Homo sapiens: one gene and its partners. The protein of the gene in region 4 purifies or fractionates together with the protein of the main gene of each other region. This does not show direct contact. Each region holds a gene or a part of one and is shown on either strand. Other genes may lie near its edges. The genes, in order: PKP2, TMEM171, AADAT, ACOX1, CNN3, PACSIN2 and TXNRD2.

Region 1 (4,065 bases), on a different chromosome or scaffold from region 4:
CTGCCTTGGGAACAGAGTTCTGTGACTCGGGAAACTGAATTTTATAGTCTCGACCAGCTAAACCAGACAATGAGTCCCAAATTTTTCAGCACTATAACAACCAAACATTTTTAGATTTTTGTGAATTTCCTCTCCCTTCTTTTTCTTTTTTTAAATTCAACTTTCATTTTGAAAACTTTTTTTTTTTTTTTTTGAGACAGAGTTTCACTCTTGTTGCTCAGGCTGTAGTGCAATGGCGCAATCTCAGCTTCACTGCAACCTCCACCTCCTGGGTTCAAGCGATTCTCCTGCCACAGCCTCCCGAATAGTTGGGATTACAGGTGCCTGCCACCACGCACAGCTAATTTTTTGTAGTTTTAGTAGAGAGGGGCTTTCACCATGTTGGCCAGGCTGCTCTTGAATGCCTGACCTCGGGTGATCCACCCACCTCTGCCTCTCAAAGTTCTGGGATTACAGGTGTAAGCCACCGTGCCCAGCCAAAACTTTCTTTTTGAGACAGAGTTTCACTTTTGTTGCCCAGGCTGGAGTGCAATTGTGTGATCTTGGCTCACTGCAACCTCTGTCTCCCGAGTTCAAGTGATTCTCCTGCCTCAGCCTCCTGAGTAGCTGGGATTACAGATGCCCGCCACTATGCCCAGCTAATTTTTGTATGTTTAGTAGAGATGGGTTTCGCCATGTTGGCCAGGCTGGTCTTGAACTCCTGACCTCAGGTGATCCACCTGCCTCTGCCTCCCAGAGTGCTGGGATAAGAGGCGTGCGCCACCACACCCAGCTGAAAAACTTTTGTAGAGAATGTTTTGATAACCTTTGATCACTTGCCATATCCCAGGGTGGTGTGAAACTAGCATTTAAAAACATTAACGTACGTTTAATACTTGTTCTTGGCCTTCATTACTTAAATTTAAAAGTTTAATACATCATTGTTATACAGTCTGTAAATATTAATTAGCCTACTTGTATTCTGAGTTATTTTAATATTTGCTTGATTGCAGGAAATCTTCACCGAACCAGCAGTGTTCCTGAGTATGTCTACAACCTACACTTGGTTGAAAATGATTTTGTTGGAGGCCGTTCCCCTGTTCCTAAAACCTATGACATGCTAAAGGTAGGATATCAAAGAATGTAACCCTAGTGATCAGATTACTACCATGAAAATATTTTCAAACTTCCTAAGATTATTTTTGAGTGTTTACTTTTCCCAAGTATTATCATTTCCTAAATGAGTTTTGAGAAAATTGATATTTATGAGGATACCATGGAAAACTAGGGATGTGAAACATTCTTACATCCTAGTGCAAATAAATATGACTCAAGTCAACCAAGTCTTATTTTCAAAAAGCCTTTACCCAGAAAGGGGCAAACTTCTCGTCATCTGATTCAGAGAAACGGACATGTTGGGTAATAGTCCCAGAGTAATTAGTCCTCAGCAAAGTTGAAATTTGATTTATGCCCCCTTTAAACTTTATTTCTCTCATGTGCAGGCTGGCACAACTGCCACTTATGAAGGTCGCTGGGGAAGAGGAACAGCACAGTACAGCTCCCAGAAGTCCGTGGAAGAAAGGTCCTTGAGGCATCCTCTGAGGAGACTGGAGATTTCTCCTGACAGCAGCCCGGAGAGGGCTCACTACACGCACAGCGATTACCAGTACAGCCAGAGAAGCCAGGCTGGGCACACCCTGCACCACCAAGAAAGCAGGCGGGCCGCCCTCCTAGTGCCACCGAGATATGCTCGTTCCGAGATCGTGGGGGTCAGCCGTGCTGGCACCACAAGCAGGCAGCGCCACTTTGACACATACCACAGACAGTACCAGCATGGCTCTGTTAGCGACACCGTTTTTGACAGCATCCCTGCCAACCCGGCCCTGCTCACGTACCCCAGGCCAGGGACCAGCCGCAGCATGGGCAACCTCTTGGAGAAGGAGAACTACCTGACGGCAGGGCTCACTGTCGGGCAGGTCAGGCCGCTGGTGCCCCTGCAGCCCGTCACTCAGAACAGGGCTTCCAGGTCCTCCTGGCATCAGAGCTCCTTCCACAGCACCCGCACGCTGAGGGAAGCTGGGCCCAGTGTCGCCGTGGATTCCAGCGGGAGGAGAGCGCACTTGACTGTCGGCCAGGCGGCCGCAGGGGGAAGTGGGAATCTGCTCACTGAGAGAAGCACTTTCACTGACTCCCAGCTGGGGTAAGTCCCCTCCTGACTCTGCAGTTCAGTCATTGCCAGCACATTCTGTTCCCACAGCCCTGACAGCATGAGCTGGCACTTCTGGGGCTTGAGAGAAGGGCTTCCAGAGATAAGTGATTAAAATAATGACTTTTCAGGCAGCTGCCTAATTGACAGATCAGCCTATTTACCTCAGGGACAGGGGCCAAGCTACCTGCTCACATGGCAGCTTTGTATGGAAATGTGACATTTAGTCCATCTGTTCCAGATTAGATGCTGGCTGAAGGGACCCTACCCCTCAGCCATATGAAAATCTGCTCTAAACTCCAAAGTAGGCCAAGAATTGGAGAATTGCATGCGTATTTTCTTCATCATCCCATGAAATAAAAGGAAAAAATGCTTATTCTTAGCACGAATGCCATTTGGATAACTATGACTGTAAAAAGAGCTAAGGAAAGATGGCTGACTTCTAGATGTCTTTTTTCTTCCTTTGGTACTTGGTACCTTTTAGATTTCTAGTGTCAGTGATTTGAAGGGGTATTCTTTTGGCAGTATTAAATTATTAAAATAACTGAATTTTTAAGTCATTCCTTTCCATTCCTATTTACTTTATAGCTTGACTAATTTAGTGTTTGGAACTTAACCCTTATTCAAGTTTAATGCCTGATCACAAATTTTATAAACTGTGCACGTTACTAAGAGAAAGATTGAGAAATGGATGGCTGATTAGATCAGTAACTCCTGCAATAATGATCTAACATCATTAGGCTAAAACATTAGATATGTTATTGTCATTTGATTGCTAAAGTTGTCTAATGATAGTTGTTACCTCTAAACATCCCTTCAAGTGAAATTGTACAGCATGCTCACTGACCAGGTAGCATCATTAATAAACTACTTCTCAAAATGATGAGGGCTAATCTAATCTTAACACAGGAAATATTTTTTATGATGTAAAATTCACCATGAGATTTCTAACATTTCTTATAGTAAGCAGACCTTAGGCAATATGAGCATACTTACAAAGAGGAAAAATAAGCCGGGAGCAGTGGCCCAGGCCTGTAATCCCAGCACTTTGGGATGCCCAGGCGAGCGAATCACTTGAGTTTAGGAGTTCAAGACCAGCCTGGGCAACATGATGAAACCCCATATCTACGAGCAATACAAATATTAGCTGGGTGTGGTTGTGTGCACGTGTGGTCCTAACTACTCGAGAGGCTGAGGCGGGAGGATTACTTGAGCCCAGGAGATGGAGGTTGCAGTGAGCCAAGATTTGTGCCACTGCACTCCAGCCTGGGGAACACAGTGAGACCTTGTCTCAAAAAAAAAAAGAGAAAGTGTATCAGGTCATTGTTTATGGAGGAAAAAGCTGATAAAGGCTTTTAAACAGGTAATTCAAAATTTATGGAATGCCTACCATAGCCTAGGATTTGTGATAGCCACAGTTTTAGCAAAATGATTTTAACAGTAACAAAATTATTATCTGACATCCTCCAACAACTGGCATTCTCTCCCTCCATCTCTGTGTCCCTTGCTTCTTGAACCACCCTGTCACTTCCCAGTCTCTCGTCAACCCACTGCAATATGATTTCAGTCCCCTCCATTCCACCTAAACAGTCTCCTGACAAATGTAGCAATGATGGCCTTATCTGCTACATCCTAAGCAGACACTATATTGAGTAATATAAGCACTGCTTATATTACTCAACCTGTGGGTGGTGTTTGAGACACCATGAAATTCTCTCATCCCTTGGTTTTCAGGGCACCAGCTTCCCCTGGTTTTCCACTCACCTCTCCAGCCATTCTTTGTTAGTGTTCTCTGCGTGCTCCCTTTCTGCCTGCTCAAAGAAGGCATCTTCAGTAACCCTTCTATTCCAAGTCTTGATGCTCTTCCAGAGAGGCTCTGT
Region 2 (4,065 bases), on a different chromosome or scaffold from region 4:
GCCACCCTAAGCAAGCATCAGACATGCTAGGAGTGTGAACCACTACAGGGAAGTAAAGCCCCATCTTCTTCATTTTTTCTGAACTGTTATTGCTATTGCCAGCTTCTCAGAGGCTTTCACCAGGCCCCCAGCAGTGGTGCTGCCAGAGCTCTACACTGTTCTGGTCCACTTGTGTGGTGCATTTTATATTGGAATCGGAATACAAATTAGAGTTTGCATCTGGTCCCTAGTTTCTCCTCAAAACATGAGGATGTATTCTGGAGTGAACAGTAGCCACAGAAATGCAAAAACCAAACTTCTTTGGGTTCAACCTTCATCTGTATGGGTGAAATTTTGGTAAATAACAGTTAGGGGCTGTAATATGGCTTACTGTCATTTGCTCAGGGGCTGAAACTACATTTGAGGAACAAGGCACTTTAGCCAACAGCTAACTTGTGAATTAAAGTTGTAGGCTGAAAACGAGAAAAGCTTTTTCAGCAGTAGACACCCCAGAGGAGGGAAAGGAGCTTGTTAGCAAACAATTCACAAAAAGGCTTGGTCTTAGACTTGCTACAAAATATAGACCTGCTTTCATACCATAATTGTCAGCACTCTGGATTCTGAAATGTAGGCCTACTTTTAAAAAATTTGTGGTAAAAAAAAAAAAAAAATATATATATATATATATATATAAAGCATAAACAATTTAAACTGCTTTTTGTTTCGTTTTGTTTTGTTTTGAAACAGAATCTCACTCTGTCACCCAGGCTGGAGTGCAGTGGCATGATCCTGGCTCACCACAACCTCTGCCTCCCGGGTTCAAGCAATTCTCCTGCCTCAGCCTCCCGAATAGCTGGGATTACAGGCGCCTGCCACCACGCCTGCCTGATTGTTTTTTCTTTGTATTTTTAGTAGAGACAGGGTTTCGCCGTGTTGGCCAGGCTGGTCTTGAACTCCTGACCTCAAGTGATCCACCCGCTTCGGCCTTCCAAAATGCTGGGATTACAGGCGTGAGCCACCACGCCTGGCTTTTTTTTTTTTTTTAAGACAGGGTCTTGCTCTGTCACCCAGGCTGGAGTGCAGTGGTACAATCATAGTTCACTGCAGCCTAGAACTCCTGGGCTCAAGCAGTCCTCCTATCTCAGCCTTCCGAGTAGCTGGGACTGCAGGCGTGTACTCCCACATCTGGCTAAATTTTTTCTTTTAATTTTTTTGAGATGAGATAGCGCTGTGTTGCCCAGGCTGGTCTCCAACTCCTGGGCTCAAGCGATCCTTCCTCCTCAGCTTCCCGAAGTGGTGGGATTATAGGTGTGAGCCACTGCACCCAGCCAAACCGTTTTTAAATGGTTTAGTGGCATTGAATACAGTCACAATGTTGTTCAACCATTATCATCATCAATTTCTGGAACTCTTCCATTATCCCCAACAGCAACTCTGTACTCACCAAACAGCAATTCCCACTCCCTTCCTCCTCCCGAACCCCTCCTAGCCCCTGGTAACCTAGTCTACTTTTCTATCTCTATACATTTAATGGGCTTACTTTTAAATTTTGGAGTTAGCAGCAGGTGTGTTGACCTTTTATATAGATGGGCCAAATATATAATTAATTTTGCTTTTGCTAATTTGCTTCCATTTATTACCCACCTGTTGTCAACTAAATATTGTTTTGCCTTAGGTGACTCGGTAATAATATTTCCACCCCCTCCACCACCTTACTTTCCTGAATCTTCAGCTTCTGCGGTCGCTGAGAGTCCTGGAACTAACAGTCTGCTTCCGAATGAAAACCCCCCTTCATATTACAGTATTTTCAACTATGGGTAAGAATTTCAATTTGAACTTCAAGAGAGGCCTGAATTCAGGCCACACTAGTATTAAGGCTGTGTGGTTCACCAGGAGGCATTCAAGTGTGAGTATCTTTTTTGCTGATGTTATGTCAGAATTAGTGTCTTGATATTAACAGTACCTTTGCCGAAATTTGGGCAGCACATAAGTTAAAAATGATAAAGTGATCATGCTGGGTTAATATGAAGCCTACTCCAGGCATCTATCTTTATGTGCTCCTAACAGGGGTGATACTCAGAATGTTTAACAACCCTTGCCGGGTGCTGTGGCTCACACCTGTAATCCCAGCATTTTGAGAGGCCAAGGTGAGTGGATCACTTGAGCTTAGGAGTTTGAGACCAGCCTGGCCAACGTGGCAAAACCCTGTCTCTACGAAAAATAGAAGAATTAGCTGGGGATGGTGGTAGGCACCTGTAATCCTAGCTACTCGGGAGGCTGAGGCATGAGGATCGATTGAACGCAAGAGACAGAGGTTGCAGTGAGCCTGTTACCGGCGGAGGGTGTCCACGTACTTTGTGTTTTGAACAAAGAACTGGACAAAATGCACAAACGAAGCAAGGAAAGAATGAAGCAACAAAAGCAAAATTTTATTGAAAATGGAAGTACACTCCACAGGGTGGGAGCAAGCCTGAACAGCTGCTCAAGGGCCCAGTTCCAGAATCTTCTTGGGTCCAAATCACCCCTAGAGGTTTCCCATTGGCCACTTTGTGTTCACCTCATGTAAATGAAGTGGTGGCCCACAATCCGTCTGATTGGTTGCAGAAAGCAGCCAATCAGAGGCTGAAGTGAAGTTACAAAGTTGTTGTCCTATGCAAATGTCTGATTGGTTGCAAAAAGCAACCAATTAGAGGCACTTTCAATTTCCCATCTGCCGAAAGGTGGGTGTTTGCAAAGGGAGTAGTCTTTGGTCCTTTTGTTACTCAGGGGTGGAAAGTTAGGGTTTTCCTTTCAATTTAGTTCTAGGAAGTCAGCGTGAAACGGCCGTAGATTCCCTGCCTCCACACCCTATTCTTCTGCTCCAAGCCGAGATCGCGCCACTGCACTCCAGCCTGGGCAACAGAGAGAGACTCTATCTCAGGGGGAAAAAAAAGAATGTTTAATGACCCACCAATCAGACTGAGCACCAGGACTGGGCCAGGAGGCCCCTGCTATGCTAGGCTTCACTGCTTTAGATCATGGAGAGGTGTGAGGGTCTCAGGGGATCCCCAACAGTTACAGAAGGGCTTTAGTACTCTGATGGCCGTGCTTGGGTGACTGGCTAAAGTCAGCCTGAGCCCCGATCCAACACAACTGGGCCTCTCCTTCAATATTCGCTCCTTCCCTGGGCCGCAGAGAATATCAGGTCAATACCCACCCCACACAGAATGCAGCGAGGCAGGCTCTAGTGGGACGGGCCTGAGGTGCCAGGAGCCTGGGGGAGGGGGTCTGGATGGAGAATGACATTGAGGAAGAGGCGAAGATGATGAGTTCCAGGGTGAGTGACAGGGAAGCTCAGAGGTCCCCAACTGAGAAGACGTGAGTGATGAGCTTGGTTTCGGTGGGGAAAGGATGGTGGGCGGCTGATGGTGGCGGTACAGTGAGATGAGGGCCTTGGAGGCAGACTGGGAAGGGCTGGGTTTTGGGAGAGAGAGGAGGTGATGGAGATGGAGCTGCAGAGGTTGTTGGAGAACCAGAAGGGCAAAGAGTCAGGGACTAGTGGGAGACCCCCAGGAGGGGCTTGTGCATACCCCAGAAATGGTGTGCTCAGGGAGCAGGGCTGGAGAAGGCTCTGGTGGTACCTTCTAGAATGGGAAACCAGGGTTTAGGAAGGGAAGGAAGAATTGCTTCACATTGTCACAGGGTGAAGCAGGTAAGACAATGAGATATGTGCATTTTTGCATGCAGTGAGCAGCAGGCACAGAGAGACTGGTGCTCATTGCTGGGGATAGCACCACCTTACCTTGTTATTCGTGTTTAAGGAACTCCCTCTCCACCCTGCCTTGACAGAGCAGGCAGTGGGCCTTGGAGCAGGGGCCAGGGTGCCTTTTCTCTGGGGCCTGGAGGGAATGAAGTTGTGTAGAGATTCTTTTCCCACAAAAGCAGGGGGACAGGTTATCTGATGGGAGAGGGAAAGAGGTGGCTGACAAGGACAGAATTGGCTTTACAGCTTCATATGGGGTCGTGATGGGGGGATCCAGGGAGGTGCATGTGGGAACGGCCCTGCATGGAGAAAGGGCAGGCTAGGGCTGGACCTCTGTAGAATTC
Region 3 (4,065 bases), on a different chromosome or scaffold from region 4:
TATGCCTTTCTTACCATCTGTTCAGAGTTTTTTCACTTCTCTGTAGTCCTAGGAACTGACTCATCCTCATATTTGAGTTCTGGGTTGTTTCTGGTGTAAATTTTAGCACTGTATATTTGTTAGTGGTTTTGTGGGAGGGAATGAAGTCAACTTGCTTCTACACCACCATTTTGGAACTGGAAGTCTCCCCCACCCTTTTGAAAACACTGTCCTCCTCTAGCTCTCTCAGTAGCATGTTGTGTGGTTCTCCTCCAGCCCACTTTCCCTCCCTTCCTTGCAGTGTCCTCCTCTACCCAGCCATTATTTATTGGAGTTCCCTGTAGCTCAGTCCTTAAACATCTCTCCTTAGTCTATGTACTTTTCCTGGGTATCTTCATTTACATTCACATGATCAACCATATGCCAGTAACTTCCAGGCTCCTTCCAAATCCATTTGTCCATCTATCCATCTGACATCATCACAGGGTGTTTCAAAGGCACCTCACACTAAAACAAATCATCCTGTCACTCAGATATGGATGGCTTTTTGGTTATGTGTTTCAGTGAATGGCACCACCCCCACCATCTATCTAGTTCCATAACCAAGTATCTAGGCATCATTCTTGACACCTCCTCTTCCTCATTTCCCTATTGTCCATAATCATGTTCCATTACTTTTCATTTCCTAATACCTCTCAGTTCTTCTCTACAATTCCTCTGTCACCACTCTACTTTAAGATGACCCTTACCTGTTCCAGGCCTGTGGCAGTAACTTCCCAAACAATCCTAAAAACTTTCTAAACTTTCCACATGTATTCTCACCCTTCTTTCATTCTTTCATACTGCAGCCAGATTGATCTTTTCAAGACGAGTATCTAATCATGTGACTCCTCCTCCCCACTCTCTTCCTAAAATCCTTACTTGCCTCCCTTGGCTCAAATGCCTACATGGTTGGTCTCTGCCCACTTCTGTCTGATGTCACACCACTCTTTTCTCTACATTCTGCCTCAAGACACATAATTATTTTGGTTTTTCAAATCTAACTGTTGTTACCCCGTACACCAACTCATCGCTTCCTCCAGGATGCCTTCCCTGAATTCCCTGAATGCCTAGGTCTTCCTACAATGAGCTCTTATGTCATTGTGCATCTGTACTTAATATCACTCACCACCGTTTTTAATTTGCACATTTATTGGGTAGTTATTTAATTGGTGTCTAGCTTTCCCAGTGGACCAGTAGCTCCATGAGAGTAAGAACCATGTCATTTTGCTATTTTATCTCTGACACTTTACACAGGCCTGGCGTATAGTAAACATTTAATAGATTTTCAAAGAAGCAATAAAAGGAATAAATGAATGTTAGCAGCCAAACCTCTGTTCACCTTTCTCTGGAACAGGAGTTGGCAAACTATGGTTTGAGAGCCAAATCCAGCCCTTCATCAAATTTTGTAAATAAAGTTTTATTGGAACTCAGTCACACCCATTCATTTATATATTGTCTATGGCTACTTTTTCACTATAGAGGCAGAGTAGTTGCAGGGTAGTTGCAACAGAGATACTATGACCCGCAAAGTGTTTACTGTTTGGCCCCTTATAAACAATTTGCTAATTCTTACTCTAGAACCATGTGAGCTCAAACTAAAAAATGGGCTTCTGAGCATGGAAACAGTACTAACCTATGCTGACTAACAAGCTAACCTATGCTTCTTTTGTTAGGTGTTTGAAATGATCATTAATCCTGGAGATAATGTCCTCCTAGATGAACCTGCTTATTCAGGAACTCTTCAAAGTGTGAGTATACATTTTTACTAAAGGCAACTCTCTTGTAGTAAATAAGAAGAAAACTTATAATAAAGGTTTTATAATAACTTTATTATAATAAAGTTAATATCTTATTAACTTTAAAATAATCTGTCCACAGAAAAATGAAATAGCATATTTTATCCATAAGCAGGATAATCTTAAAGGATATATACAAAGTATGTGAAATGTATTCTCTTCTTTATACATTTCTTTTTTGAAATCCAAGTGTATAGGCATTAAAATTAGATTATGCAAAATCATGTCCAATTCTCTTAATATTTTACTTGAAATGTAACTTAAATTACAAAAATTTATTTTTTATTACTATCTTATTACCATATGCATAAGTACAACTATGTTATATGTCAGTTTAGTATACTTATATGGTATAATGACGACTTTCCATTCCAAGGTTAGATCCGTGGAACTGTGATTTACAGAATGAGGAAGCTGATGATCTGACTCTGCTCTGCACTGGTCAGAGCACATTGCTGAGCATTAGGTTTGTTTGGGGCAGTCTACTTTAAGACAGAAATGTCCACAACTGGAGCATACTCAGAGAAAGATAGTCAGAGTAAATAGGGAATTGGAAGCCATATCATATGATGAATGGTTGTAGGAACTGGAGCTATTTTCCCCAGAAAGAAAAGACTCAACAGAGGCATGAAAACTGTCCTCAAATACATAGAAGTTAGCCATGTGACAAAAGAATTAGATTTATTTGTACATGACCTTAGGTTAATAGAACTGGAACCACAGGGAAACAATTTCAGCTCTGTATAAGAACTTGCTAACCATTGGCCTTACCGGACTTCATAATGGGTTACAACATTGCCCATCACTGTAGGTGCTCAGTCACTCTTGACTGCCACCTAACACAAATATGGCTAAAGTAATTCTAGCTTAGAGTAGGGGAATTCAATGCGATGACTTTTATGCTCTATTGATTCCAACTTCATGGATCCTTTTATTTTTTTCAAATTTTATTTTATTTTTATGAAAATCAACATATAAAGCAATATATAAAACAATTCCATTTGTAATAGCATCCAAAAGAATAAAATACGTAGGAATAAATCTAACAAAGGAGGTGGAAGACTTGTACATTAAAAACTGAAAAATTTTGCTGAAAGAAATTAAGCAAAACTCAAATAAATGGAAAGACTTCCACAGTTCATAGATTGGAAGACTTAATATTGTTAAGATATTAATACTACCCTAAGCAATTTACAGATTCAATACAATCCCTATCGATATGCCAACAGCCTTTTTTGTAGAAATGGAAAAGCCAGTCCTCAAATTGATGTGAGTTTAAAGGACCTAAATAGCCAAAATAATCTTGAAAAAGAACAAATTTGGAAGACCCCCACTTCCCAATTTCAAAACTGCAAAGCTGCAGTAATCAAACAATGTGGTACTGGCATAAAGACAATCATATAGACCAATAGAATAGAACTGAGCATCCAGAAATAAACCCACAAATCCAGTTGATTTCAGTAAGGGTGCCAAGATCATTCAGTGGGGGAAAGGATAGTCTCTTCAACTGTGGTGCTGGGACAACTGGATTTCCACATGCATATAAAAGAACTTGGACCCTTACTTCACACCATATGAAAATTTAACTCAAAATGGATCAAAGACCTAAATATAAGGGCTAAAACTACAAACACTTAGGACATAAGGGCAAATTTTTATGACCTTAGATTTGGTGGATTTTTTAGATATGACCAAAAATATGAGCAACGACAACCACAAAAATAGATAAATTGAACTTGAAGATTTAAAAGTGGTTGTGTATCAAAGGACATTATGAAAACAGTGAAAAAAGAGTCTATACAGTGGGAGAAAATATTTATCATAATATATCTGATAAACCTTTAATAACCAGAACATATAAAGAACTCCTACAACTCAACAACAGAAAGATAAACAACCCAATTTAAAAATGGACAAAGGACTTAAATAGACATTAGTCTGAAGAACATGTGCAGAAGGCCAATAAGCACATAAAAGATGCTCAACATCATTAGTAGAGAAATGCAAAGCAACATAAATCAACGTATGAAAGCCGCAAGTTCCATGATCGTGTAGTGGTTAGTACTCTACAATGTGTGACTGCTGTACCTGCAGTCTGATTATTTGGCAAGACTCAGGCTTGGGGAAAAAATTTTTTTAAATAGAGAAAAGCAAATCAAAACTACTGTGAGATACTACCTCACACATACCACGATGGCTATTATTTAAAAAAAAATAGTGAATATGTGAAGAAACTGGGTTCATTCAC
Region 4 (4,065 bases):
GGTACAGAGCTTGCTCAATATATTGTCAACTGGTTCTGTGTTTCAGGAAAAGCCTCAAACTATGCAGCAAAAGCTCTAAAATGCTCATGTCCCTCAATATAGTAATTCATTTCTGAGAGGTATTCCAGAAGTATGACCCCAAAGAATACAGCGTCTTATTTATTTATTTATTTATTTATTTTTTGAGACGGAGTCTCACTGTTGTTACCCAGGCTAGAGCGCAATGGCGCAATCTCAGCTCACCACAACTTCCACCTCCCAGGTTCAAAAGCTTCTCCTGCCTCAGCCTCCCTAGTAGCTGGGATTACAGGCACGCACCATCACACCCAGGTAATTTTGTATTTTTAGTACGGACGGGGTTTCTCCATGTTGGTCAGGCTGGTCTCGAACTCCCGACCTCAGGTGATCCACCCACGCTGGCCTCCCAAAGTGCTGGGATTACAGGCGTGAGCCACCGTGCCTGGCCAGAACACAGCTTTCATAAAGTTTATATTATTATCACTAATATTGGTGAAATTTAGCCCAAATCCCCAGGGAAGCAAGTCTCATGAGAAGTCCAACAGGGAAGAGAATCACTTGGGCAGAGGGAAGAGGAGACTGTTAAGCCTAGGGAGAGAGGGCAACGGAGTGCGGTAAAGACTGATGACTTAAAAATCAAGTTTACTACCTCTTTCCAGTTTCAAAGAAAGGTGCATTATTTCATATTTAAGTGTTAATGATGGCAATTTGCCAGGATACTGCATCAGCTTCAAGGATAACTATGTATCATACAATCTCTATATTCCTAAATAGATGGTAATACGAAACAAGGCAATGTGACCCCAGTCCATGGGTGAGGAATAAAGAAAGAAAGGAACGAAAGGAATGGAGGAAGGGAAGAAGACAGAAAGAGAGCGAGAAAGAGGCCGGGTGCAGTGGCTTACACTTCTAATCCCAGCACTTTGGGAGGCCGAGGTGGGCAGATCGCCTGAGGTCAGGAGTTCAAGACCAGCCTGGCCAACATGGTGAAACCCTGTCTCTACTAAAAATATAAATATTAGCCAGGTATGGTGGTGCACACCTGTGATCCCAGCTACTCAGGAGGCTGAGGCAGGAGAATCACTTCAACCAGGGGGAGGTGGAGGTTGCAGTGAGCCGAGATTGTACCATTGCACCACTCCAGCTTGGGCAACATGAGACTCCTTCAAAAAAAAAAAAAAAAAGAGGAAGGAAGGAAGGAAGTGAGCAAGCAAGCAAACAAGGAAAACAAAGCAAGAAGAATCTCCAGAAATGGCCACATCTTGAAATGATTACATATCTGTGAAGAGCAAACAAACGACCTGTTTTGTGGCCTAAAGAAACATATGGTCAGGATGATAACATGGACCCAGTTCCCCAGGCTGTTCCTTTGATCCCAGAACTCCAGGGAGGTGAGCCTATCACCCAGGTTCAGGCCTCTGCCTTTGATTATGGCTCCCAGACCCACAGGGCAGGTGTATATCCGAGTTTCTTCGTGTCCTTAGAGGAAAGAAGACACACTCTAGAAAGAAGGATAATGCTGGTGACTGAGACTTTCTGTAGGTGACTGAATTTTAGGATTTGGAAGGAACATGGAGTGAACCTGAATACTTCTGAGCCCCTTCACTTCTCAGCAGCTACCCAGAAGTGAAAGAATCCCAAACCCAAAGTTACAGCTACTTCTGTGAGACCGCGTTAGATAATCACTGTTCACTGTTGATCCATTTTCCAAAGTCTCAGAATTTAAATAGTTAGATCTCATTCTATATAAGCTGCTCTATTGCCGATCTCCTGGACGTTGACTTTTTGTGTATTCCATATAAGATAAAACCGTCACGTGATGCAAATTAACCAACCTGACTTATTTCCAAGGAAAAGATCAGTCATCAACCAAGAACAGCAATATGAATTAGCAAAATTCCAGCAAGAAAAAAGACTAATCTTAGGACACTGTTCTCTAAACCACAGAGATTAAGACAACGTTGGTTTAAATACAAGAAAATACCCAAAACTAGCTGGGCATGATGGCTCACGCCTATAATCCCAGCACTTTGGGAGGCCGAGGCGGGCAGATCACCTAAGGTCGGGAGTTCGAGACCAGCCTGACCAACATGGAGAAACCCCGTCTCTACTGAAAATACAAAATTAGCCGGGCATGGTGGCACACGCCTCTAATCCCAGCTACTAGGGAGGGAGAGGCAGGAGAATCACTTGAACCTGGGAGGCGGAGGTTGCGGGGAGCCGAGATCGCGCCATTGCACTCCAGCCTGGGCAACAAGAGCAAAACTCTGTCTCAAAAAAAAAAAAAAAAATACCCAAAACTAAAAGCAATAAGGGAACGAAAACTCTAACAAATGCAAACTTGCCCACAGCCATATAGGATCTCTGTCCAACTTCTGTTTGCCTCAAACCAGTATAGTTCAAGTCTTCCTTTCTTCCTCTCTCCTTTCAAAAATTAGGGCAGGCCGGGCGTGGTGACTCACACCTGTAATCCCAGCACTTTGGGAGGCTGAGACAGGTGGATCACCTGAGGTAAGGAGTTTGAGACCAGCCTGGCCAAAATGGCCAAACCCCATCTCTACTAAAAATAACAAAATTAGCCGGGCATGGTGGCAGGTGCCTGTAATCCCAGCTACTCAGGAGGCTGAGGCAGGAGAATCCCTTGAACCCAGGAGGTGGAGGTTGCAGTGAGCTGAGATCACTCCACTGCACTTCAGCCTGGGGCACAGGATGAGACTCTGACTCAAAAAAAAAAAAAAAAATTAGGGCAAATATATATTTGTGATATTACTTTATAAATGAGGCAGAAGCATTAGACCAACAAGAGGTAAGAGGTATACTTAACAAATCCATTAGCCTCAGACTATTTCACATCTTATGCCTCCTATGAACAGCATGACTGTTAAGTCGAATAAATTCTATAATGATGAATACTGAAACAGAGTTCTGTACCACAAAGCTACTTCAAAATTACAACACACACACACACCACGCATGCATGTACACAAACACACAGATACTCCAAGCGAGGAGGACTACATAAAGAATCTTATCTCTCAGGCCGGGTGCAGTGGCTCATGCCTTGTAATCCCAGGACTTTGGGAGGGCAGATCACGAGGTCAGGAGATCAAGACCATCCTGGCTTACACGGTGAAACCCCGTCTCTACTAAAATACAAAAAATTAGCCGGGCGTGGTGGCGGGCACCTGTAGTCCCAGCTACTGAGGAGCTGAGGCAGGAGAATGGCGTGAACCCAGGAGGCGGAGCTTGCACCGAGCCGAGATGGCACAACTGCACTCCAGCCTGGGCGACAGAGTGAGACTCTGTCTCCAAAAAAAAAAAAAAAAAGGAAGGATCTGTCAGCCAGGCGCGGTGGCTCACGCCTGTAGCCTGTAATCCCAGCACTTTGGGAAGCCAAGGTGGACAGATCACCTGAGGTCAGGAGTTAAAGACCAGCCTGGCCAACATGGAGAAACCACGTCTCTACTAAAAATACAAAATCAGCCGGGCGTGGTGGTGAGCACCTGTAATTCCAGCTACTCGGGAGGCTCGGGCAGGAGAGTCACTTGAACCCAGAGGCGGAGGTTGCAGTGAGCTGAGATCATGCCATTGCACTCCAGCCTGGGCAAAAAAAGCAAAACTCTGTCTCAAAAAAAAAAAAAAAAAAAAGAATCTTATCTTCCTTTACAAACCTTTCTTTCAGGCTTATAATTTCAGTACTGACCATCTTGAAGTTGAAGTCTTGAGTGTTTAGTAAAGTGTCTGGAACATCAAACCATGACCAGAAAGCTGCAGTACCCATGGAGATGACAATAAATAACATTTTCCTTAAACCAATTCACACACTGAAATCAGCAATCAAACACAAAATGATGTTTCCCTGATATCTGCATCCCTTTTTCTTTCCCTTTCTTTACTCCTGCCATTTTGATAATTAGACATGAGGCTGGGCAGTTCAAATTCCAAACACTCAAACCTGCCAATGGCCTTGTCTATGAAAACAAACCTATTTCACATTAAGATCAAAAGCAAAACTTTTTGAAGGAAGCCAGATATTTAGGAACAATT
Region 5 (4,065 bases), on a different chromosome or scaffold from region 4:
CTAGAATGTAAGCTTTTAGGACAGAGACTTTGCCTTTGAACTGTGCCTGATATGAACTAGCCATTTAGATGAAGGACAGAAAGAAGGATTAATGGAGAAAGAAGATGAAAGAAGAATCTAAGGAACACACGGAACACTTGAAAAACAGAAGCTAATGTTGAATACGAGTTTACTTAGAGAGTTTGGAGTAATGCAGGATTATCCTGGTGGCTCAAAACGGGGAGCCACAGCTGAAATTAGGGAGACTGTTGTAATCACTGGGGACAATAACCAGGAATTGTCTGCTTCCAGGTTTGAACAAGCTCTGTGATGATAATACATTGTGAGAAGGAATCCATGTGAAAAACAAGCAGTCTTCATTCTTCAGTAGATTCTGGAATGTCCTGGGTGTAATGGGGGCATCAGACAGTTCTTGTACATGAATGTCATCACTCTACCTCATGGCAGATGTGCCCCCATCTTTTTTTCAAATGGTACTTGAGCTGAATGCTCTCGGCGTACACCGAGAAGTACCATTCAACAGCGCAGGAATCGAGCTTTTGGGTCAGCTGTGGAGGTGCTTTTTGAAGCTAGGTCTCCCTTTACTCTTTCTCCCTTTCTGAGGGTTCTTAGGGGGAAGCTTCTCAAATTTCAGAGCCAGGGAGGGGCATGGCTGTTTCCCAGCAGCTGGTAGGCTTGTATCTGCTCTAGTGTCTGCCTTCACTGTTAGGACACATAGGCCCTCGGGGTTGTGTTTCTGAAGGTGGTCTTAGTCCAGAGCTCTTGGATATATGATTAATAGTGATATGTGATATGTGTGCCTGTGGGCTGGAAGAATAATTGGCTGAAGGATAGGCCCTTCCCTCTGGGAATGGAGTGTGATTTGTGGGGGGAGAGACTTGTACATTTTAGTGTTATCTCAGTGTTTCTTAACCTTGTTTTCATGATCACCTTCTCCAAGAGTTGTTTTAGACATTGTTCCTAGTTACCTCCTATCCCTTGCTAGATTTAGTACAAAGGAATAAGATTTTGTTGGGTAGAGTTGAGCTTTGGAGGGTCCCAAGTTTTTGTATTGTCTTAAGATTTTTTTCACCATTGGTAGAAACCACCACAAGAAACACTTTTCACCTCTTTGGGACACCACCACCCCTGTTGAGAATGCATGCGCTACATACTTGTATATCATTTATTTGTTTATTTTTGTTTTAAAGACAGAGTCTCACTTTGCCACCCAGGCTGTAGTGCAGTGACATGATTATCAGTCACTGCAACCTGGAACTCCTGGCTTCAAGCAATCCTCCTGCCTTGGCCTCCCAAAGTGCTAGGATTACAGGCATGAGCCACCCACCTGGCCTATTTTTTTTTTTTTTTTTTTAAAGAGACGGGCTCCCTATATTGCCCTGGCTGGTCTCGAACTCCTGGGCTCAAGGATTCCTCCTGCCTCAGCCTCCCAAAGTTGCAGGATTACAGGCCTGAGCCACCATGCCTGGCCCAGCCTAATTTTTTTAAAAAAATTATTATTTTGGAATTGGCTGGGCGTAATCCCAGCACTTTGGGAGGCTGAGGTGGGCGGATCACCTGAAGTCAGGAGTTCAAGACCAGCCTGACCAACATGGCGAAACCCCATCTCTACTAAAAATACAAAAATTAGCTGGGTGTGGTGGTGGGCACCTGTAATCCCAACTACTCAGGAGGTTGAGGCAGGAGAATCGCTTGAACCCGGGAGGTGGAGGTTGCAGTGGGCCAAGATCACGCTATGGCACTCCAGCTTGGGTGACAGAGCGAGACTCCGTCTCAAAAAAACAAACAAACAACAACAAAAAACCAATTATTATTTTAGAATTACAAAAGAAAGTGAGGGCTAAAGAAAGGTCATGAAACAAGAAAGGACTGATCTGCATTTGAACTGAAGGGTGACTCCACACTGGTGCTCTTAGCTGTCCTGAGGAGAGAGCCAAGGGAAGCTCTAAGGGCTGAAGCCGCCACCACGACCACAACAGGATGAGCCCTGGACCCAGGCACAGGAACATGAAGAGGAGCAGGTGAAGCTGTCGGAGGAGCGAGAGCAGAGCAGGCCAATCGCTGAATGTAGGGAGGAGGATCAGCTGTATCCTATGCCCTAGGAGGCTTTTTTCTTGGTCTTCATTATCTTCACATGTTGATTGTATCTGGCTAGAGGGATGTTGGAGAGTTTCGGGGAGGAGTCTCCAGCAGGTGTGCCTAGACAGTATTCTCCTCGGTCTCTGGATCATTTGTAAGTGCTCCTTGATGCAAAGAAGGCTGTCAGGCACTGCTTGGAGAATGTGTGCGTGTTTAAGAAAGGAAGGTGGGCATATAAAGAGAGGGGCTGCTGTGGATTTGAAAGAGCCAGGCAGAAAGTCTGCGAAAGCAGCTTGGGAAGGCCAAGAAAATAAATCTTGAAGAAGAATAAAGAAAAGGATGTTTATCAACAACTTGGAAGAGTAATTTTTATTTTATTTTTATTTCTTATTTTTGAGACGGAGTCTTGCTCTGTTGCCCAGGCTGCAGTGCAGTGGCACCATCTCAGCTCACTGCAAGCCCCGCCTCCCGGGTTCACACCATTCTCCTGCCTCAGCCTCCCAAGTAGCTGGGACTACAGGCGCCCGCCACCACACCCGTCTAATTTTTTGTATTTTTAGCAGAGACAGGGTTTCACCGTGTTAGCCAGGATGGTCTTGATCTCCTGACCTCACGATCTGCCCACCTTGGCCTCCCAGAATGCTGGGATTACAGGCGTGAGCCACTGCGCCCTGTCAGGAAGAGTAATTTTTAAGTAAATTAGAGTGAAATTTCCATGAAGTATTAATGAGGTAAGTTTAAGCAATTATTTTAAGCTAACTTTCTTTTGTTGAGAGAAAGAAAATGTCAGCGTTTTTCTGCCAGATGTTGAGAAATTAAAGCTTTTTAGATGAAGATAGTAAATCATTTTTATTGGCCAAAGATTACTTTTTTAAATTGCTCTCAGTTCCTTGATTTTAAAAGATAATGCTGTTTAGCTGGCCTGACTGCATAAAGCTCACTTACTAGAAAAATATTCGAAGTATTTGGATAGGAGAATCCTGTTGCTCCTTTACTTAAAGGAAACCCTTAGCCCACACCAACAGTTATTTGATGTGGCTGCATTCCTAGTCTTAATTTTTAATTGATCATATGGGGCTTTGAGTTTTGCATGCTTGTACATACGAATTTCTTCTGTGCACGTGGTCATATGGTAAGTCTCAAGGACAGCATCACCTGTCCAGAGCTCCCCCCCACAACCACTCATTGGTAGAGCCAGGATTTGAACTGAGGTCCATCTGACTCCAGTGCTTGATTTTTCTATCTCATCACTTCCTTGACAAGAACTGTCAACAGAGAAGGTGAAAACTTCTTACTGGGATCTACTAGGATATTTCAAGTTAGGTCTGTAGTCACTTCGTGGTTTGGGGCATGGCACCAAATCTGTTGGACACATTTTGAACAAAGGATGCATAAATATGCTTTTAATGTTTTTCTGCTTAAATATTAATTGATGTCATTTGGTATGAGAATTACCATCACCATCCTGTGAAATATCCCAAACTACTCTAACATAATTTTTCTCTACATTTGAAGAAACGAGAAAATACTTCTTCAGTTTTTTATTATTTGACCAAATTGTGTAGATAGCTGAGAGTAGGAACGGACCTAGTGCAGGCATCCAGTTTAGACTTCCTCTTGGATCGAGAGAAGTTAGAGGAACTAACCCAGGCCCATAGCAAAGATAGATGGAGCCAGGCATGGCGCCAAGGCAGAACTCCTCTCACCCTAGCATATTATGTTTTTCTTCAGATTGATCAAAATATATCTCCTAGTTGAGAACGCCCTCACTTTTGGGGAAAAAAAAAATCACCTTACAATTAGTATTTGCTTTCCATAGTTAATGCTTGAGGAGTACTCTTTTCTCCTTTTCTTCTTTGCCTATCCCCTTTCATACCACCACCTCCAGTTTATATAGTGAGAATTTATTTTTCTAGGCACCCAGAACAAGACCCCAGTGTAAAAATATAGTCAAGACTTAAACGTGTCTATCGGCTGGACGCAGTG
Region 6 (4,065 bases), on a different chromosome or scaffold from region 4:
CAAAGGCCTCATGAGACACAGACAGTTTCATTATGAATGGGGCCAGGGACAAAACAGAAGAGAAAGGAGATGTGACAAAAGCTAAGACACAGAGAAAAGGAGACACAGAGAAAACCATCCGGAAGGACAGAGGCATGTTCTGGATGATTCTGAGGCGGAGGAAGGCAGCGCAAGGCCAGAGAACATCTGGGTGTTGGGGGTGGCACATCTACCGTCTACTCCATTCCAGCTAGGAATGGGGGGCGAGGCTGCAGGCAGGGGCGGGGCACACAAGCTGAGGGCTGGGGTGGACAGATGACAGCCTCCAACTAGCCAAGGCTCGACAAAACTCAATGGCTTTGGTTGCTACTTTTAGAAAAACAGGTATCAATGTTTGAAATTTTGGGATAAAAACCTATGCAAGAGAAAGAAAAATGTAAACTAGTTCTTTCTATCGTCAAAGGGACTTGAAAAAAAAATAAAGTGAAAGCAAGTTTATTGAGAAAGTAAAGGAATAAAGAAAGGCTACTGCACACGCAGAGCAGCCAAAGGGACTTTTTTTTTTTTTTTTGAGACAGAGTCTCCCTCTGTCACCAGGCTGGAGTGCAGTGGCGTGATCTCAGCTCACTGCAACTTCCACCTCCTGGGTTCAAGTGATTCTCCTCCCTCAGCCTCCTGAGTAGCTGGAACTACAGGTGCCCGCCACCACGCCCTGCTAATTTTTGTACTTTTAGTAGAGATGGGGTTTCATCATGTTGGCCAGGATGGTCTCAATCTCCTGACCTCGTGATCCGCCTGCCTCAGCCTCCCAAAGTGCTGGGATTACAGGCGTGAGCCACCGCGCCCGGCAAGGACTTTTAAGTCTCCAGCAGACACTTCCCCAGGGTTGGGAGAAGTACTGTTAGTGGTTAAGAGCTTGGGCTTTGAGCTCTACCACCAATGTATGGTTCTGATCCTCAGTTACCAAATCTGTAAAATGTGTTGGTAGGATCAAATTTAAAGAATGCCCTGTAATTCCAGCACTTTGGGAGGCCAAGGTGGGTGGATCACCTGAGGTCAAGAGTTCGAGACCAGCCTGGCCAACATGGTGAAACCCCGTCTCTACTAAAAATACAAAAATTAGCAGGGTGTGGTGGCATGTGCCGGTAGTCCCAGCTACTCGGAGGGCTGAGGCAGAATTGCTTGAACCCAGGAGGCACAGGTTGCAGTGAGCTGAGATTGCACCACTGCACTCCAGCCTGGGAGAGAGAGTGAGACTTTGTCTCAAAAAATAAAAATAAAAAATTTAAAGAATGCACATAGAGCATTCAGCATCTTCAACCTGGGTAAATGTCAACTACCATGGGCTTCTAGCCTGAGGAGTGGCTTCATCTCTACCAGGTCTGGCCTCCTGTGCCTACAGCCAGTGGCAGGAAGTCCTAGGTGCAGGAGGTGGTGCTGCTAGTGGGGTGCCAGGCAGAGCAAGGCCGGGCAGGGAAGCCTGCAGGACAGATGTACCTCTTTCAGCTTCTTGGCCCAGGGCTTCTGTGCCTTCCGAAAGCCGTCCTCAGCTTCCTTGGTCTCCTTGAAGCCGCCCATCATCTGCTTGTGAAAGGCTTCCTTCTGCCAGTTCTTGATCTTCTCGAAGTCATCGTTCATCAGTGAGGCCTTCACCTCGAGGTGCAGCTCGCTCACCCTCTCTGCCTCGGACATGAAGGCCATCCAGGCCTTCTCCACGGTCCCGTACTGGGGCCCTGTGCAGGGGAGAGAAGCTGCGGGTCACTCAGCGCCGGCCATGGTGGGGTCTGCTCTGCTCACACCTCGGCTGTTCAATGTGGCCATTTAGACCACAGAGGGTTTCCTTTCAGGGTTTCAGATATTTTTCTCTCAGGGACTCTGTGCCTTTTTCAGTTCCCAAAGCTGAATTTGCTCTGCCCCTCGTGTTAGGAAAATTGGGGGATTACATGCCTTTCCTTTATTTTTATTTTTGGGATGGAGTTTCGCTCTTATTGTCCCGGCTGGAGTGCAGAGACGTGATCTTGGCTCACTGCAAACTCTGTCTCCCAGGTTCAAGAGATTCTCCTGCCTCAGCCTCCCGAGTAGCTGGGATTACAGGTGCCCGCCACCACGCCTGGCTAAATTTTTGTATTTTTAGTAGAGACGGGGTTTCACCATGTTGGCCAGGCTGGCTGATCTCGAACTCCTGACCTCAGGTGATCCATTCGCCTCGGCCTCCCAAAGTGCAGGGATTACAGGCGTGAGCCACCGCGCCCGGCCATGCCTTTCCTTTATTTAAAGCCACTGAACTCTATAAAAACTCAAATTTCCACATCTTAGAAGTCTTAATTTACTTAAAGGTGGCCAGAGAAGGGGGGACCTTCTGAAGTGAGCAGATGCTTCTCCCAGGTGTTGGGCACCCACCCACACCATGCCAACGCTTCTCCTGGCATGGCTCCTATCAGCCCTGCTTGGCCCCTGGCTAGCCCTGCACTGCCTTCCTCTGCAGGACTGTGTTCATTCACTCCCAGAAAGAGCCTGGCTCTGAGCACAAGCTTGAGAACACTGTGGAATGAGGACTGTCCCCTCAGCAGAATGGAAGCCCATCCTGCAGGAGGAAGGAGAGGAGGAAGCAGGAGCCTGCTCTGGACCAGTATGGCAGGAGGGGCTGAGTCGCCTCTCCCTACTCACTGTTCTCAGTCCCCGAGGCTCAGGAAGGAAGCCCTAATCCAGGCTGGCATTTCTATTCAGGGGGTAGGGTGGGGTGGCGTGAGGCTGGAGGGAGGGAGAGCCACAACGGAGCCGGGGCAGAAATCGAGAAGATCCATGGCTGGTCTTCAAGGTGGTCACAGGGACAGTGACCAAGTGCGCTGAGTCATGACAGAGGTGGGCTGAGGGGAGGGCAGGCTGTGAGAACCCAGAGGGGGACACGTGACTCTGGGGCTTGGAGACAACAGAGAACAGCCCCGGAAGTTGGACCTCTCTGTGCCTTCGTGTCTACAAAATGAGCACATTCCTGTCCTGTCCACAACGTTACAGCCAGACCCACAAGGTGAGGGTGGTAAGGGTGCTCTGTAAACCTCAAGCTCTGACTGACAGCTTGATCCTGGGAGAGGGGCTGCAGCAGGTGGAAACGAAATGACGACACTGCCACCGACCAAGGGAGCTGACCTATCCTAGGCCCCTCCTCTGCCACGTGCCTGCTCCACAGCCTGGGCACATACCCTGCCCTAAGGACTGTGCTAAGCCCACACAAACAACCCATGTCAGCATCACGGGAAAGGACAGGCAGCTGGACTAGACCTGGCTTGCTTGGGACCTGGCTCCCCTGATTGGCTGAGGACAGCTGGGGCTGAGGACAGCTGGTCAGCACAGGAAAGCCTGCCCCAAAACACACCTTGAGAAACCCACACTGCTCTGCTTCTGTGCCGGAAAGGCTGTAATCAGTCAAGTTCCCCTTCCCTGCTGGGAAGTGTGTTCTAAGCATGGCCCCTGTCCACACAACAGTGGCACTAATAAAGCTACAGAATCTTCTGAGCTTTTCGGTGGGGACAGAAGGGGGTGAAACCTCTGCCATACAACACCTGTAATTATTCCCTTAAAATGTAAACTCAGAAAGACTGCCAGGTGTTGCCAGCTAGTCTTATCTGACCTGCTACATGGCCAAGTTTAAAAATAAACAGCTCTCAGTGTTAGAAACTAAGGTGCCAAGCGGCAAGGCCTTCCACGTGATAGGAACTTACCCGAGTTCTGAGTTAACTCGGCAAGTGCAAGTGTGTCCTATGGATGACAAGGGCTATAGTCCTGTGTCCCCAAGGAAAGTGGACAAAAGCTCATGGAGCCTGTGCCTTCTGGTGATGGGCGCTAATGCTCCCCATAAAAATCACACCCCGCTCTGGAACTGGGAAATGCACTCTTGCCCCAATCTTAAAAGACAGAAAACTGGCATAGAGAGGGTCACAACGTGCCCAGAGCCCCCGGCTGGGGTGTAGCTGCCTCCAGGCCACAGGACCTGTGCCGGGGCCCCATACCTTTCTCCACGAGCTGCCTCCAGCGCCGGGCCCACTCAGTGAGCTGCTGCGCATACGCCTTCTCGATGCGCGCCCGCTC
Region 7 (4,065 bases), on a different chromosome or scaffold from region 4:
AGAAATGAAGAGAAAGAGTACAAAGAGGAATTTTACAGCTGGGCTGCTGGGGGTGACATCACGTATCGGTAGGACCATGATGCCCACCTGAGCCGCAAAACCAGCAAGTTTTTATTAAGGATTTTAAAAGGGGAGGGGTTGTGCCAATAGGGAGTAGGTCACAAAGATCACATGCTTCAAAGGGCAAAAGGCAGAGCAAAGATCACATGCTTCTGAGGAAACAGGACAAGGGCAAAATCAGAACTCCTGATAAGGGTCTATGTTCAGCTGTGCACATATTGTCTTGATAAACATCTTAAACAACGGAAAACATGGTTTAAGAGCAGAGAACCAGTCTGACCACAAATTTACCAGGACGGAGTTTTTTCCCCACCCTAATAAGCCTGAGGGTACTGCAGGAGACCAGGGCGTATTTCAGTCCTTATCTCAACCGCATAAGACAGACACTCCCAGAGTGGCCGTTTACAGACCTCCCCCCAGGAATGCATTCCTTTTCCAGGGTCTTAATAGTAATATTCCTTGCTAGGAAAAGAATTTAGCGATATCTCTCCTACTTGCACGTCCATTTATAAGCTCTCTGCAAGAAGAAAAATATGGCTCTTTTTGCCTGACCCCACAGGCAGTCAGACCTTATGGTTGTCTTCGTTCCCTAAAAATCACTGTTATTCTGTTCTTTTTCAAGGTGCGCTGATTTCATATTGTTCAAACACACGTTTTACAATCAATTTCTACAGTTAACACAATTATCACAGTGGTCCTGAGGTGATGTATATTATCAGCTTATGAAGATAACAGGATTAAGAGATAAAGACAGGCATAAGAAATTATAAAAGTATTACTTGGGGGCCCAGGCGCGGTGGCTCATGCCTGTAATCCTAGCACTTTGAGAGGCCGAGGCAGCCATATCACAAGGTGAGGAGATCAAGACCATCCTGGCTAACATGGTGAAACCCTGTCTCTCCTGAAAGTACAAAAAATTAGCCAGGTGTGGTGGCGGGTGCCTGTAGTCCCAGCTACTCAGGAGGCTGAGACAGGAGAATGGTGTGAACCCAGGAGGCGGAGCTTGCAGTGAGCTGAGATTGTGCCACTGCACCCCAGCCTGGGCGACAGAGAGAGAATCTGCCTCAAAAAAAAAAAAAAGAAAAAAGTATAAAAGTATTACTTGGGAATTGATAAATGTTCATATTGAAATGAAATCTTCACTATTTATGTTCCTCTGCCACGGCTCCAGCCAGTCCCTCCATTCGGGGTTCCTGACTTCCTGCAACACAGGTGTGAGCCACTGTACCCAGACTAGGGGTGCAGTTTTTTTTTTTTTTTTTTTCTGAGACAGAGTCTCACTCTGTTAACCAGGCTGGAGTGCAGTGGTGCTATCATAGCTCACTGCAGCCTTGAACTCCTGGGTTCAACTCACCCTCCAGCCTCAGCCTCCCTAGTAGCTGGGACTGTGGGCCCTGCAGTTTCTCCTTTTAGAGTAGGAAGACCTGAACTGTCCCAGGCTTGGAGTGGGTGGGCGATGCAGCCCCTGAACAGGAGCCAGAATGACAACACCTGCTGCCAGGAAAGAGCTCTAGATAGAGCAGCCATACAGGAGGGCCCCTGAGGTGGCACCCTGAGGTGGCCAGCCTGCCTGTGGGTGCACATTTTGGGGGACCCTTCCACTTGCCCTCACTGGTGCAGTGCTGCATTCTCTTGGGCCTTGCTATGAGCTCTGGGCTCCTGCTCTTTGCTGGCCTGTACCAGGCAGTGGGTTCAAAGAGGAGCAGAAAATTAATGGACAATATGTCAGAAGGCAGAGGCAAGACAGACACTTGCTGGGGCCAAGCCCTGCAGGTGGAGAGGGTATGCCTGGCTAAAGTGGGTGAAAGGCAAGGTTATGAGGTTCTCCAGGACACTGGAGTGCACAGGTGGTGTGTCCCCAGGTAACGCCTGCCACCCAGCCCTTCCTCCCACAGAACAGCATCTGCCCTACCCACCTTTGAGGTACTTTGGGGTCCTTCCTTCCCAGCAGGCTACCCAAGCCCTTCCAAGTGCTTAAAGGCAGATTTCCTATGCTTGCAAACGACTGCCCTATGCCAGTGTTTATCAGCCCGAGAGGGCTCCTGGGTGTGCACAGGGGGCGAGCAAGCTGCCCAAGATAAGCACATCCATACAGACAGCTGCTCACCCTGCCTGATAGCAGACAGAGGGGGCACAGTGCGAGGCTGCAGGGCAGGATGACCTAACAAGGGCCCTGCTATGGCAACAAGAAGGACAGGCACCTGCCATGGAAGGTAGGGACGTTCTGAGCAAAGCTTCCGGCTACCAGGCAGCTGGAGGAGAGAGATGCTTCTCCATCAGCAGGTTCATGCTCCCCGGGGGACCTGGTGGCATTTTCTCCCTGACCAGCAGTCCTTGGTTCTCTAGACTTATATTAAAGCCATTAGAATAATTTACAACAATTTAGGCCTTTCCAGAGCCCTTGAGTTGAATTAGGAATTGAGTGTGCTTTGGACTGGCTGTTGGAACCGAGTTGTGGCTCTGTCAGTTCCCGCAGGTGCGCACACATCTCACGTGCACTCAGAGGCTGGCTGCCAGGTGAAAGAGTGGGTGGGTTTGGTTGTGGGGCAGGCTCGCTGCAGGCCATGGCCTGAGTGCCTGGATGCAGCTTCCCAAGCTTTCTCAGCTGTGAGCCAGGGCTCCTCTAGGCTCCAGCTCTTGTATCCTTTAGGAGTGCATGTTCTAGACCTGTCTGTGGGGCATCTGCAGGGCCAGGGTGTGGAGAGACATGACACTCCAAGTACACTCTCTGCAGCCTTGCCTGCCTAGGAAGGTGGAGGTGGCTGCAAAGATAAGTGCAGCCTTCTCATGGCAGACGCTAGGCTCTGATGGAGGTGTTGGGCAGGTTGCCCAGCCTTGTATGACAGACCCTGCTCTGATCATGGAACCTCTTGGCCTTGTCTGAAGCAGCGACCGGCTCCAGATGCTCTGGGAGGGTGGTGCTTCTCATCTGGGCAGGCTCGTGTCTGCAGAGGGGCTGAGGGCACTACTTGTTTTATACCCTAGAGTCTTGTCATCAGTCCCCACCCTGCCCTCACCCCAGCAGACTGATGACTTGCTATTATTTCTTCCTTCCTTCAGCAGGGAGTTGGCTGGTGCCTGGTGCTGGGTGTCCCGGACCTCAGGCCCAGTTCAGTGTACTTCCCCTCTCTACTTCCTCCCTCCAGTCCCTTCTCCATCCCTCCCTTTTTTGGCTGCCCCTTGCCTGCCTTCCTCGCCAGTAGCTTGCAGAGTAGACACGATGACACCTTTTGCAGGCTAAAAAGGCTGAGAGTGGCACTATGTGCAGTGAGCCACCATGGAGGACCAAGGTGAGGCGACACCACAACCAGCCCAAAAGGAATTCCAGGGATGAAACCTGAGCCCAGGCAGCTCTCCCTGTGCCCAGGGTGGCTTCCCTCCTAGCTGACTGCAGCTGGGCACACCAAGACCCTGGCTGTGTGCACTGGCCAGCTGTGAGGGACAGGGGCTGCTTGTGCTTTTATTCTTTTTTTTTTTTTTTTTTTTGAGACGGAGTCTCACTCTGTCTCCCAGGCTGGAGTGCAGTGGCGTGGTATCCGCTCACTGCAAGCTCCGCCTCCCGGGTTCACGCCATTCTCCTGCCTCAGCCTCCCGAGTAGCTGGGACTACAGGCGCCCACCACCATGCCCGGCTAATTTTTTTGTATTTTTAGTAGAGACGGGGTTTCACTGTGTTAGCCAGGATGGTCTCGATCTCCTAACCTTGTGATCCACCCGCCTTGGCCTCCAAAAGTGCTGGGATTACAGGCGTGAGCTACCGCCCCTAGCCTGTGCTTTTATTCTTGCTCACTTGTGACGGAGGGCAGCCTTCACAACTGAAAGGCACGTGGACTTGAGAATGTTTTAGTCCACCTTGGTGGCTCATGCTTGTAATTCTAGCACCTTGGGAGGCCAAGGTGGAAGGATTGCTTGAGGCCAGGTGTTTGAGACCAGCCTGGGCAACATAGCCAGACCCCATCTCTACAAAACAAAAAAATTTAGCTGGACGTGGTGATCGGTGCTTGTA

What was found.
Region 1: the proteins of ACOX1 (region 4) and PKP2 purify together in Homo sapiens (co-immunoprecipitation; one large-scale study listed by IntAct). This does not show direct contact.
Region 2: the proteins of ACOX1 (region 4) and TMEM171 purify together in Homo sapiens (co-immunoprecipitation; one large-scale study listed by IntAct). This does not show direct contact.
Region 3: the proteins of ACOX1 (region 4) and AADAT fractionate together in Homo sapiens (co-fractionation; one large-scale study listed by BioGRID). This does not show direct contact.
Region 5: the proteins of ACOX1 (region 4) and CNN3 purify together in Homo sapiens (co-immunoprecipitation; one large-scale study listed by IntAct). This does not show direct contact.
Region 6: the proteins of ACOX1 (region 4) and PACSIN2 fractionate together in Homo sapiens (co-fractionation; one large-scale study listed by BioGRID). This does not show direct contact.
Region 7: the proteins of ACOX1 (region 4) and TXNRD2 fractionate together in Homo sapiens (co-fractionation; one large-scale study listed by BioGRID). This does not show direct contact.

What each region holds. Positions count from the first base shown.
Region 1 is NC_000012.12:32,875,960-32,880,024, reverse strand, and holds part of PKP2 (plakophilin-2), read left to right. Parts: intron 1-992; coding exon 993-1,105; intron 1,106-1,481; coding exon 1,482-2,179; intron 2,180-4,065. UniProt on the Homo sapiens protein: A component of desmosome cell-cell junctions which are required for positive regulation of cellular adhesion.
Region 2 is NC_000005.10:73,126,736-73,130,800, forward strand, and holds part of TMEM171 (transmembrane protein 171), read left to right. Parts: intron 1-1,654; coding exon 1,655-1,796; intron 1,797-4,065.
Region 3 is NC_000004.12:170,076,213-170,080,277, reverse strand, and holds part of AADAT (kynurenine/alpha-aminoadipate aminotransferase, mitochondrial), read left to right. Parts: intron 1-1,694; coding exon 1,695-1,769; intron 1,770-4,065. UniProt on the Homo sapiens protein: Transaminase with broad substrate specificity. Has transaminase activity towards aminoadipate, kynurenine, methionine and glutamate. Shows activity also towards tryptophan, aspartate and hydroxykynurenine.
Region 4 is NC_000017.11:75,969,000-75,973,064, forward strand, and holds part of ACOX1 (peroxisomal acyl-coenzyme A oxidase 1), read right to left. Parts: intron 1-4,065. UniProt on the Homo sapiens protein: Involved in the initial and rate-limiting step of peroxisomal beta-oxidation of straight-chain saturated and unsaturated very-long-chain fatty acids.
Region 5 is NC_000001.11:94,906,269-94,910,333, reverse strand, and holds part of CNN3 (calponin-3), read left to right. Parts: intron 1-4,065. UniProt on the Homo sapiens protein: Thin filament-associated protein that is implicated in the regulation and modulation of smooth muscle contraction. It is capable of binding to actin, calmodulin and tropomyosin. The interaction of calponin with actin inhibits the actomyosin Mg-ATPase activity.
Region 6 is NC_000022.11:42,889,471-42,893,535, forward strand, and holds part of PACSIN2 (protein kinase C and casein kinase substrate in neurons protein 2), read right to left. Parts: coding exon 3,987-4,065; intron 1,713-3,986; coding exon 1,477-1,712; intron 1-1,476.
Region 7 is NC_000022.11:19,931,642-19,935,706, reverse strand, and holds part of TXNRD2 (thioredoxin reductase 2, mitochondrial isoform 5 precursor), read left to right. Parts: intron 1-1,976; exon of another isoform or gene 1,977-2,040; intron 2,041-2,180; exon of another isoform or gene 2,181-2,266; coding exon of another isoform or gene 2,267-2,273; intron 2,274-3,153; exon of another isoform or gene 3,154-3,337; coding exon of another isoform or gene 3,338-3,350; intron 3,351-4,065. UniProt on the Homo sapiens protein: Involved in the control of reactive oxygen species levels and the regulation of mitochondrial redox homeostasis. Maintains thioredoxin in a reduced state. May play a role in redox-regulated cell signaling.